Regions from separate parts of the Homo sapiens genome. Here regions 2, 3 and 4 are each reported to be linked to region 1. Evidence: microRNA targets listed by miRTarBase, many of them from high-throughput screens and not tested one by one. Region 1 holds a microRNA gene; each other region holds the end of a gene's coding sequence.

The links. The annotated mature microRNA hsa-miR-4456 reads CCUGGUGGCUUCCUUUU and lies in region 1 at 1,836-1,852, shown strand. An mRNA with a match to its seed (bases 2 to 7 or 8) in the 3' UTR can be bound and repressed. Matches are read on the target gene's strand: a 7mer-m8 pairs with bases 2 to 8, a 7mer-A1 pairs with bases 2 to 7 and ends in A, and an 8mer does both.
Region 2: miRTarBase lists CAPN7 as a target of hsa-miR-4456. Seed matches in the 3' UTR shown: 7mer-m8 at 1,494-1,500.
Region 3: miRTarBase lists CLASP1 as a target of hsa-miR-4456. Seed matches in the 3' UTR shown: 7mer-m8 at 137-143.
Region 4: the mRNA of BBX is a reported target of hsa-miR-4456. Seed matches in the 3' UTR shown: 8mer at 1,007-1,014.

Annotation. Positions count from the first base shown.
Region 1 is chr5:534,588-537,712 of GRCh38, reverse strand. MIR4456 (microRNA 4456) reads left to right here and starts at 1,831; the gene lies at 1,831-1,873.
Region 2 is chr3:15,251,091-15,254,215 of GRCh38, reverse strand. It overlaps CAPN7 (calpain 7), which reads right to left. Exons shown (of 21, transcript NM_014296.3): 21 at 1,300-3,100. The coding sequence ends at 2,956. It overlaps SH3BP5-AS1 (SH3BP5 antisense RNA 1), which reads right to left and starts at 32. Exons shown (of 3, transcript NR_046084.1): 1 at 1-32.
Region 3 is chr2:121,337,963-121,341,087 of GRCh38, forward strand. CLASP1 (cytoplasmic linker associated protein 1) reads right to left here. Exons shown (of 41, transcript NM_001395891.1): 41 at 1-2,985. The coding sequence ends at 2,899. Among named protein-coding and RNA genes, the nearest start is that of TFCP2L1, 54 kb to the left of the region's middle.
Region 4 is chr3:107,805,086-107,808,085 of GRCh38, forward strand. It overlaps BBX (BBX high mobility group box domain containing), which reads left to right. Exons shown (of 18, transcript NM_001142568.3): 18 at 285-3,000. The coding sequence ends at 372. Among named protein-coding and RNA genes, the nearest start is that of LINC00635, 71 kb to the right of the region's middle.

The DNA of each region.
Region 1 (3,125 bases):
GCCTGGCTCTGTGACTGCGTGACCCATGGCCGGCCACTGAAGCCTTCCGCTTCCTTGTTTTAAAATGGGATTAGGAGTGGAGGTGAATGCCAGGCTGGCCGCACCAGGTTCCCACAGGTATCAGATGAAACCCGGGTAGGGACCCGCAAGGGGCCAGCAGCCGTGAGCTGTTGTTATTTTTCTGAGTGTATAATACTCAGTCTCTAAATAGGGAAGTTAGAGACTGAGCAATGAGTGTATTCACGGTAGACAGGCATGGGGGACAGTCCATGGGCCTTGGTCTGGGAGCCCAGTGGTGGCCAGCACGGCTGGAGAACGGTGGGCAGCGCCGGACCCCACCTGCCTTCTCAGCGGCTTTCTGTAGACGCGAGGCCGTGCTAGGGAAGGTGTCTCAGCCCCGCGGTGGGGTGGGCAGTGCCCTGCAGATGCCGTTGAGCGGGCTTTCATCGGGGAGGTGAGCCGGCCGGAGCAAAGCATCGCCCACCTGTGCAGCGTCAGACTCACAGAATCGCTAACACACAACGCTCAGGGAGAAAAGCCAGAGTCACAGAATCGCTAATGCACAACGCTCAGGGAGAAAAGCCAGACTCATAGAATCACTAAGTCACAATGCTCAGGGAGAAAGGCAGAGTCACAGAATCACTAACACACAACGCTCAGGGAGAAAGTCAGACTCACAGAATCACTAACACACAACGCTCAGGGAGAAAGTCAGACTCACCGAATCACCAACACACAACGCTCAGGGAGAAAAGCCAGAGTCACAGAATCGCTAATGCACAACGCTCAGGGAGAAAAGCCAGACTCATAGAATCACTAAGTCACAATGCTCAGGGAGAAAGGCAGAGTCACAGAATCACTAACACACAACGCTCAGGGAGAAAGTCAGACTCACAGAATCACTAACACACAACGCTCAGGGAGAAAGTCAGACTCACCGAATCACCAACACACAACGCTCAGGGAGAAAGTCAGAGTCACAGAATCACTGACACACAACGCTCAGGGAGAAAGGCCAGACTCACAGAATCACTAACGCACAACGCTCAGGGAGAAAGAGTCACAGAATCACTAACACACAACGTTCAGGGAGAAAGTCAGACTCACCGAATCACTAACACACAACGCTCAGGGAGAAAGGCAGAGTCACAGAATCACTAACACACAACGTTCAGGGAGAAAGGCCAGACTCACAGAATCACTAACGCACAACGCTCAGGGAGAAAGGCAGAGTCACAGAATCACTAATACACAACGGACAGGGAGAAAAGCCAGACTCACAGAATCACTAACGCACAACGCTCAGGGAGAAAGGCAGAGTCACAGAATCACTAACACACAACACTCAGGGAGAAAGGCCCGGCTAGGAAGTGGCGAGCCAGCAGGTGGTCGGCTTGTTAGGGCTGTGACAGAGTCCACTTTGTCTCTGCCGAGGGCTTACTCTGCTGCAGGGAGCTGGGGGCCCTGTGCACACATCCAAGGAAAACACCCTTGTTGTCACAGCCGAAACAACAGACGCATGAGAGATTGATTTTTGAAAATATTATTCCCGAAATCTAAACATCCAGGGGGCATTTCCTGGCAAGCAAAGGCTGTTTGGGCCTCTGCATCTGCGGCTCTGGCGTCTGCCTGGGGCTTGGCTGAAGCCCTGTCAAGGAAGCACTTCTGAACCACGAGGAAAAATGTCCTGATTTGCATATTGTCTTCCACCCAAAGCTGTCGCCTGCGTCCCTGGCTCGCCCTGCCCAGGTGGGCTGCGGGTGGGGAGTGGCCACCCAACGGTGACTCAGAGCACTCCAGCATCCTGACTCTTGCTCCGTATTACATCCCATGAACCTGGTGGCTTCCTTTTCTGGGAGGAAGTTAGGGTTCACGTCCATCACAAGACAAGTCTCCCTCACAGCCCGATTGACCCCAGGACAGCCTGTGCCTGGGGGAGCACGTTGGGGGGCTATGGGCCCCATCCTACAAGGTCTCTGTGGGGTGGGCGGGGGGTAGCACATGAAGGGGCTGCGGGCTCGGTCCTGCAAGGTCTTGGTGGGGTGGGCGGGGTGGGGCCCCAGCGATGGCATCCGGGACGGTGCAGTCTGGGAGGGGCAGCGGGACCTCGGAAGGGGGCCTTGGCCGCAGGTGCCCCCGGAGCACATTTCAGGCCCCACAGTCCACACCTCTCACACAAGCCCCCCAAGCACGGCGAGCGGGCAGCACGGGGCTCTGTGTGCACACGGCAGACTGAGCACTGCTGGGCGCTGCCAGGGTCACGTTGCCCACAGGGGAGCACAGACACCCACGGGACCGAGCGCCGGCTGCAGGGCGCGTGCCAGCGGCCCGCAATGATGTCCGACTGCAAAGGGACAGGAGGCCTCAGGCTCACTGGCCTCTGGGTTCCCCACAACGACCCCCAACGGGGAGGCCTCTAGGTTCTCAACTGGGAGGAGGGGTCCTGCCCCTGGGGAGGCGGGGGCAAGGGTGAGGTGAGGGTCCCAGAAGGCAGGGGCCGGGGGCAGGAGGCGGCTGAAACCAGCGCTCTGCTGGGGTCCAGCCTGGTGGTCCCAGCTGTCCACACGGCCTTGCTGGTGGCTGGTTCAGGGCCCTCCCACAGGGAGATGTGGCTTGAAGACAAGGGCCCCGCCCCACTGCACATCTCCCAAGCCATCCTCAGGGCCCAGCTTACTACCATCTGTGGCCTCCGCACACCTAAAATCCAACACACACCCCAAGAAGACAGGGGCCCTGCCAGGGCTGGAGCCAGGGACAGCTGGGGGCCGGAAGTGAGCATGTGGGGTCCTGCTAGGTCCCAGGGGGATGCGGAGGGGGCTGCACCACCCACAGCACTGCTGAGGAATGCCATTCCCTCAGCTCCGCGTCCACCCCGGGTCCCCCTTCCTATGGGGGTGCTGACCTGAGTCCTCACTTCCGCTCTGGGTTTTCTCGCAGGAGTCTGGACAAGCAGCTGGACTCGGGCAGGTTGGGTCAACTCAGGATGTCCTCGTGCGTGAGCTACAGGGTCACAGGCCAGGGTCAGAGGCCAGGCCTGAAGGGGACACCTGGCCCCGCTCGGACAGGGAGGAGAGCACTGGTCCCCAGCAGTGTCCCAGCAGCCAGCCTCCCTCCAGGTGCCGTCT
Region 2 (3,125 bases), not on the chromosome of region 1:
AAACAGCCGGCTGGGCCCAAGGGCTCATGCCTGTAATCCCAGCACTTTGGGAGGCCAAGGCTGGTGGATCACTTGAGCCCAGGAGTTCGAGACCAGCCTGGGCAACATAGTGAAACCCAGTCTTTACCAAAAATACAAAAATTGGCCAGTCTTGTAATTTGGGTCTCAAGCAAGAACACTTAACAGCATACCTGAATTTGACTAGTGACCTTCAGGGTTCATTCAGTTCTCATAAAATCTCCTTACACCCTTTTACCTGTAGTAAAGACACTGAGACTTGCTTGACTTACCATTAGCAAAAACTTCCCTGCAATTGAGGCAATTCTTTTTCCTCCTAGAAGAAACACCATCTGGAAAATAGCCCAAGCTAGGATAAAGTTTTTACAGCAGAGTCAAGTTATACAGTCTAATAACTAGAAATTTCTAGGTACTTCTCGCAGAGAATGAAAGTGGGAAGGAGTTTTCTAACACTGGGGCTTTCTTTCCCTTGTCTTTACAAAAGACAAAGCCTAGGCAGTCAGTCAGTAGCACTAGAGTATTCCTTATGGGCATTAAGAATTTCTCTTGTTTCCTGCCTCAATCCCCCTTTCCCATCAGCCTACCACTTGCTTGTCTCCTACACCAGAAAAGGATGCAGACCACCTTTTGACCAGGGCTCCCTTCTCACACTATCACCTAGTCAAATTTCTAGTTTTACGTAGTCTGCCCCTACTGCTGTCACTGTGGCCTCTTTATCTCCACCACATCTGACATTTAATTATACTCTTCTGGGAATTCTGTTCACTGGGCTTCTTAATCCTCCCCCAACCCTCGTTTTCTTGTATCTCCTGTTAGTCTATGTATTTTTTTCTAAATTAGAAATACTTTCTAAAAAACTTCCCCCAAATCAGTTCTTAACCATCTTTAGTTCACGTGACTCTTGACTTTTTGGGTGATCTCACTTACTATACCACGTTGATTCCAGATCTGGATTTTCTGGGCAATTTAATGTGTCAAAACTTACCTTTCACTGAAGCTATGAGCATCTGTCCATGTGCTGAATTAGAAACTTGAGTCATCCTCTCTAACAATTCAACTGGTCTGTCTGTTATTTAGAACCTCCAAAAGGCCTGGATTGTTTTTCCTCCCTCTACAATGGGTCTAGATCTTGTCCCTCCCTCGACTAGACGGCCGTGACTGTGGGTGCCATTAGACACACACAGCAGCTCAATCAGGGCTCAGGGAAGAAGGCTTGTGAACCCTGGGCAAAATCTTTTAATCTCTTAGGCTTATTTCCTCAATTGTAAGAAGTACAAATAATAGTATCTATACTTTATTCAGCTATTGGGAAGATTAAAAAGAAAAATATACACATTGGGTACATAGTAAACACTCAATGGTCAGTAACCTGTCTTTTGAAGCTTTACCTTCAAGGTCCAAGTTAAAGTATCAATTCTTCAAATACAATTTTTTATATTGGTCCAGCCAAAATTAATCTTTCCCTTATTCATACACTGGTGGCATGTTTTTAGAGCTCTATTATAGAAATCAGTGCCTTTAAGTTGTTCATATATAGGTCTCTTCTAATAAATTTGATGGCAGGGATTAGGTTTTTAGTTTGCATCCTGTACAAGATCTTTACCACAACAGGTTCAAATCATGTGTTCATAATATAGTTCTTATGTTCTGGATTTTTTCTTTTTAAAAAGTAACAGAAAACTTGTTAAATTTGTCCACCTAAAATTAATAGGCTAAAACTGAAAGCATGAAGTATTTACCAAAGTGAAATCTCATTAGTGTAATAATCTACCACTACTCTGTTAAAGAACAGATTTTTGTTGAAGTATATATTTTCATGCAAATAATCTGTTCTCATTTACATGAAACACGACAGATGAAATCTTTCAATAAATCTAACTTAAACTATGCAATATCCGTAAGTATAAACATTTTATTTCAATTTAAGGTAGTAGCAATACAAAATAAGTTTTGATAATTATAAAGTAGAGACAATGAAAAATCCCACCCTATTTTTAGAATTTTAAAATATTGAGCATCATTCTGTCCTGATGGGTTTTTATGTAAAGTGGGAATTTACATGACACCAGTATCTTGGCAATTCACTTTTTTTGAATGCTACATATCCCAATCACCATATATTAAATTCTCTATTTTCTTCAAAGTGCTATTGCCACAAGAGACTGAACGATACAGCAATTTAAAAAAAGACCACACAAACTAAATTGTAATGTCTTCAATATCTCAATTACTGTTTTTTAAAAATAAAAACTGCAGTAGTGAATTTCTTTAAGTTCTTGCTACATGATTGAATGGGAGATAACCTCAACAATTTTCATTCTTAGGCATGAGCATCTTCATGCTAAGGTAGTCTATACTTAAAAGCTTTATTCTTTCATAACACCTGGGCAACAAATATTTTAAAATCATAAATAATGCAAAATTAAAATCAGTTATGGTGGCACAATTCATTTGGTAACTAGTTGCCCAAGATGTATAGTAGAATCAAGCAGGTTTAACTTCCACATGCTCTGCAAAAAAGGGAAACAATGGAAATATTTCGGTATATTAATCTAGCCCACTATTCCACTCAAGGAATCTATATCCTTTCTTTTTCTCATCTGGTCTCAGTTCCTTTATCCTCTTAGCAAAGGCATCTCACAGTGATGACTGAGTCTAATTTTAATCATATGCACTTTTTATACAAAATGGCCCCTAAAATGCAAGCCAACTCTATATACACAAAACCATGTAAACGGTACCTCTAGGTGATTTAGGTAATTCTGACTATATACAGTTCTTACCAAACACCCTGACAAGCACCAGATTCCACTGTAACACGTTTTTAGAGATTTAATTCCATTCTGATTGTTCTGCTTACTGTCCTGAAGATTTGCGTCCTTATTTGAAGAACTGATGTTTGGTAAGTATAAAAGCCAGTAACTTGAGATTTCTCCATCACTGAAGTTGTGTGATCTTGATGGGGATAATACTATTAAAGTCCAAGAAAAAAGGTCCTTCTTGTTTAGGCAAAAAGGTACTAGGAATGATATTGAAGATCCCAGAAGGTATATTTTCTAATTCCAGGTAGCAAAACCCACACCTATATTTAGAGAAAATGAGAATAA
Region 3 (3,125 bases), not on the chromosome of region 1:
CCAAAAAACAAAAAAACCCACCCAACCTGGGGGTGTGGGGACCATGCGTGTGAACACAGTGCCAACATAACTATTTTGGTGGCTGATATTTTTTCAGAGCACTTCTTTATTTCCAAACATTATTGTTAGCAAAGTCCTGGTGGGATTCTACAAAGTTCTTATTTGCTGTCCTTTAAAGTGTAACATTACGCTTGATAAATAAAGGGTGGCAGGGAAAGAAAAAGACTGATGAGACAAAGTCAGTTGCATTACCTGCACAGGGTGGTAAGCTAGTGAGGCGCATAGAAAAGGCAGGCCCGTGGCATCGCCGCAGGTCCGGGAAGCACACACAGTGTACTTGAAGGAAGCTGCGTGCCCCGAGGACCGGCTGCACCCTGCCCAGACCCTGGCTGCAGGGGAGGCAGCAGCTTGGAGGAAGCAGGGAGTCAGCCCGCCCAGCCCCGCAGTGGAGCAGCGGGGGTCTTGGGCCCTGGCCAGTCCGGTAGACAGGGAGGCAGAGACAGGCTTAGGTGCTCTGCTCTTTTGTGTTCTGTTTTTCATTGGAACAGGGGCCCTGCAGGGAGGCGGCGGCAAGGCAAGGCAGCTGCAGCTGTCAGGGTCTAGGGGGCGACGGTGGGCTCGGCGCCCTCCCAGTGAGGTGGTGGCGGCATGCGAGTCTCCTCGGCGCGGCGGCAGCAGTTTTCAGATTGAGGCCAAGAGACCTGTGACGTGATTGTATCTCTAAGTCAGGAGACTGAAGACTGGGCGAGTGACATTCAAGGCTAGCCCTTTGTGAGTACTATGAGGACGTCCAGCAATGTTCGAGATCCTTTCTAAGTACACTGGGGACTGGGGTACCTTCTGGGAGTCAAAGAGCTCAAGGAGAAAGGTCTTTCTAACTGCATTAGGAATAAAGAAACTCATGGATAACCTAGCCCGACGCACATTCCTGCAACAAAGGGGTCAACAAGAGACTCCCTAATTCACTTGTAGAGTGTAAAAAAGAAATACCATTAATGACATATTAATAAACAAACAGTACTTATCAACAAAAGACCTGGTCCTGCTATATTTTGAGCCAAAGCTCGTCAGTAATACCCAACCCCTTGAAACGCGTCCCTCAAGTTCCCTAAACAGCAGCAGTGAGGTACCACACATGTGTAGGGTGCACGCACAAACACACACAACACCACACACACACACACACACACACACACACACACACACACGTCAGCACCCTGGCTTTACTGTTCCTATGCACTATGGGGCCTTCATTTTCAGCCCATGTTTCCAAATCAACATCAGTCTTTCCCAGCTTCCTGCATCCAATGCAGAGGGTCAGGGCAGAGGGGTCTGTGGAAATGATGTTAAGAATCACGTGCTCTGGCACCCAGCCTCTGCTTTCAGTCCTAGCAGTTGCAGTGGGCTCTGCACTGCAATAGCAAATACGTTATTAGAATTAATCTCAAAAGAAGCATTTTCCTTATGGAAAAATCAGTTCAATTTATAGGATCTAATACAACAGTAAGAGACAATAGAAGTCCTCATGATTGCATTAAGAATTTCCATTTGGCTTAAGAATTTTACTCAGAATTTATTTAACCAGACTCCAAACCTCTAGTTACTTTTATTGGAGTAATTAGGCTCTAAAGGTGTTTTTAAAAAGGGGGCCTAGTGGTTCGCTGAGGAGGAAGAGAGACTCTAAATGTGTGTTCTTTTTAAGTGTGTTTCTAATCCTGTTTTTCTGCAATCTGCTACACCTCATAATTACTTTTTTCCTTAAACAGTGACTATTTCATCAACAGACATTCAAGGAACTACTTCAGTTTATAAAATTAAAAAAAATTGTGATATCCAGTCTCTCTAGGCTTTTCTTGGCTCTTAATCCCACATTAAACTGAGAAGTCAGAACTAAGATGGTAAAGATGCCATTTACCAGATTAACTGAGACCATGTTAGAACTGAACGGCTTAGGCAGAACTTTGAGGGGAGGAAACAAGTTGGTGCTCAATCTGAATCACCGTGTAGCCCAGAGATGAGGGTCTTGGCAGAGCCCCCATGACAACAGTGTTCCCAAGGATCTCAGCAGTAAAGATGAAAGACTTCTTCTTTATCTTCTGTGCTTCATGAACTGCCATCTCAGGCATCCCTAAATGATGCCATACATTTATCTTATTTTTGTGTCCAGATTTAAACTTGAAGAATTCCTTTGCATGGAAGCTCTGGGGTAGGGACCTTGTCGGTGGAGTCGATTAGGGAGAGCTGGAAGGAGACTGTCAGGGTGCACTCCCAATTCTACGCTGAAAGCCAGGGCAGTCGGCCTCCAGTCTGGATATGACAAGCAAAATTCCCAGCGTTTGTTAAAAGGCCATCTTCAGACTGTTCTTGCCAAGACTTGATTCCCATTTTTAGTAGGTCTCAGAACACAACTTAAAGATATATCACCTTTCGTGGTGTCAGCTGTGAAAGGGGCCCCACACAGACCATACGCACAAGAAAATAGGCTAAGGAGGAAGAACACAAAGTAACACCCCACCCCACCCCCAAATATGTTATTAACTGAAAAAAAAAATGCTACTTTCTACCAAGTAGTGGCTAGAGCGCTCTGATTTTTAAAAACTGCACCCCACACACAGGGTTTCGCCATCTCAGCAGGCTGTACAAGACATGTTTCAGTATGGCTCTTTTCTGTTCTTATTCCTTTTGTTTTGTATGAAGACTGCAATACAGGCCTTGCTTCCTTTACATTCAATACCAGTAAGATTCTACAGAAAAGCTGGAAGGGACCAAAATACTGATTGTAATAAATATTTGTGGGCCTCCTTGTACTGACTGGGCAGCCGATGAAGGGGGTGGGGAAAGGTCTCTGAGAGGCACCACCGATTGCTTCTAGGTCTACACAAGAGACAGGTACTGCCATTAGCTGTGCGTGGAGACATCGGAGGAGGAGCTGCTGTTGCTGTTGGTGGTCTGGGCCCTCTTTATGTATAAGTTTAGTAGCTTCATCTGAAAAGAGAAGATGAAACTGAATTAGCAGGAAGAAAAGCAATCAGAAAGTAGAAAACAGCAAAAAGAATCCCAGGTGACAGTAAGGAAACAGCAAGTCCCTTAGTTCCCTTGGTTGAGGAATTCATTATAAAAACATG
Region 4 (3,000 bases), not on the chromosome of region 1:
TTAGTTGTTTGAGGCCAGAGGGTATGCTGTTGAGTTGTATGAGGGGAATTCAGATATAAAATCTTAGGAAGGGAGACAGAATGGGAAGGAGGAAGGGGAAAAAAAGGATAAGGAAGGGGACAGAAGAGAAAAAACTCTAAAGCAAAAACAGTTTTCATTAAATGATGTAAGTAACAGCAGTAACTGTTAAACAAGATATTGGAACACACTTGTTATTCATCGTCCTCTCCTGTCTCTAATAACATATGCTGAATAAGTGACTTTTTCTTCCTTTTATTTTACAGAGGTCAGAGGTCAACTCCGCTCACCCATGATGGACAGCCAAAAGAAATGCCGCAGGCTCCTGTACTTATTTCCTGCGCTGACCAGTGAAGCGCCCTTTCATTGTAAAACATTGTGCTTTACCTACTACCCTAGCCTTGTCTTTACCGAGGGATGCTAGTGAGTCCAAGTGGTGGAAAATATAGACTGCAAACAAGTGCTTGTTGCCCCACACGGCCCAGATTCACTTGAAGCAGAAGTTAGCATCCTGGGCCAGTTTGTTCTCTCAGAACCCAGAATCTTTGAGGGTAAGGTTATCTGTCTGATACTGAGCAGAAACAGAATGATCCTGGAGCTTTGCTTTCTATTGAAGGCTTTTGACGGTAATAGGTGGTAACTTGGTAAAAGGCTGCCTTTACTGTAGCTCACCCAGCATCTCTTTTACCAACCAGAGAGTGTGAAACTAGTTTCATATATTACCTAGTTATTCTTTCAAAACAAAACAAAAAAAAAACAAAAACTGACGCACTGCACTAGTTATTATTAGATATTCTTAGTCTTTTTTGTACATGGAGATTTAAGTTTAAGATGGTTTATATAATAGGTTATACCTACATTTATATTGTAGAATAAATATTAAAAAGCCTGTTCCAGAGACTCCCAAGCAGCCTGGGCAGGCAGATGTACCATTGTTAGTGGTGTATGCTCGGCCTCGTGGTCCATATATTCTGCACTTTTATATTTGCCACCAGAATGGTAGTTTGCTGGCAAAAAAAAAAAAAAAAGAGAGAGAGAAAAAATTACAACTCTTACAATCTGAATTTTTTTCTTAGCCTTGAGTGACCAAGAAGAATTTGCTTGAGGCAAATTGTGGCAAATATTTTCCCAGACAGGGGAAGAGTCCTGCAGATTACAGATTACTGGTGTTTTCATGCCTTGAGGATTCTTTTATTTTTACATAGGGGTCTAAGTGACCAATGGATTGTTCATACAAACAAAAAAAAAGACAAAAATATTATTCAGAAGTGACCTTAGTATTACTTCACTATTCTAAACACATTGAAGACACTCACTTCATGTGGACTTGGAGCTACAGACCTTTTACATCCATCACAGATTGGCTGGACGGGTTGCAATTGCTATGCACAGCCTGATTGGCACTGCAGGTTTTTAGAGCCATTTTGAGTTTGTGTTGTTTAGGAGGTACTGAGTCAATGATGAGGGAGGTATGCCTGACCAGAGTGGGACTCTCAGTCATAGATCCACCTGCAAGTCTCTGTTTCCTTTTTGTGTTTTGTTGCTTTTGAACATAAAACCAACCATACATAAGCAGCGCCAAGTGGATTAACTGGCTTAGAACATTCAACATATTGACTTAACCACCTGACATTCACAGTGTCTTGTTTCCTAGCAACAGATGCAAAGTGATAAATCAAAATTAGTCTGAGGCTACAGATTTTACAGGGTATTTGTTCTATAGCACAAAGTATTTCCCCACTCTTGCGTCACAGCACAAACTACCAAATTTTAATTATTGGATTCCAGCAATAATTTTTAATGGTTTTCAAACTGGCGGAATTTTGACAGTGCTAGTTCGAGTTTGAAGCTTTTGAATTAGATCTCTAAATGGTGACAGTTTACATGGTTTTATCTAGCTTTCTTATTTATACTTGACTGAATTGTAATGATTTTTTTTCTAATTGTAATTTGACGTAATAGCCATACAAAAAATGACTCTATTCATACTAGGTTTAGCTTCTCATGGTTGTAGATATTACTTCAGTTCCGGTGCTGGAAAATATGTACAACATACTAACAGGATTGAAAAAAAAATAGAGGTTTTTCTTCTTGTTTTTTTTTCCAAAGCAGGTAAAGAGGGTAGCAAAGCATCGGAATGATGTGCTCAAAAATGCATATTCCTGGTGGGGATGGAGGAAGAAGGCATTAGTAAAAGGTTAATCAAACGTTACAACTTAACCCCATTCATGTAGGAATAAATCAAGTGAGCAGTTCCAGACTTTTGCATAATATTTTTACTATGATGCTGTTTTATTAATATTTTCTAAATTTCAAAACAAAAAGTGAATGTTTGAAATTGCTGGGTCCCGATGTTGGTGGCTGTTGGAGTTTTGGACCACTCGCTAGCAGTGATTTGAAGATTATAATTAGCTAAAATCCAAAACAAAAAACCAACAACAAAAATTGTATGGTGCGGAACATGCACCTTGACAATGGTACTAACTTGTTATTCTATAGAACACGTTAGAATAGATCTATTTTTGCCAGAGCACCCTCCTTCAGTCCTCCGATTACATTTCACTAGAGTTCCTTACGAGATTGCTGTATATTCCTGGGACCTTTTTTAAAAAAAAAAAAAGCAAAACAAAAGATTACTTTTTTTCTATGTGATTAATATCTTACTTGATCTGCTTTTCCTAAACCTCAGTGGCTTTTCCCTTAGGCAGGGTTGGGGGTGGGAGGGCAACTTACTGGAGATGACTGTTTTCAGATACTTTAAAACAAACCTTTTTGTAGAAATGCTTAATTTTTAAGCGGTTAGGCACTGAGAGTAGCAGAAATCCTGCAAAGCTTTATAGTTCCTTAGACTCACCTTGTCGATTCTCTGAGTAAAGTCTTGATTTCAATAATTGTGCTTCTCATGCCCTGAAACTGCTGGAGAGGAGTGTTGTTATTTTCAGGTAACAACATTCGTTAGCACAAATATTTCAGACCAATATT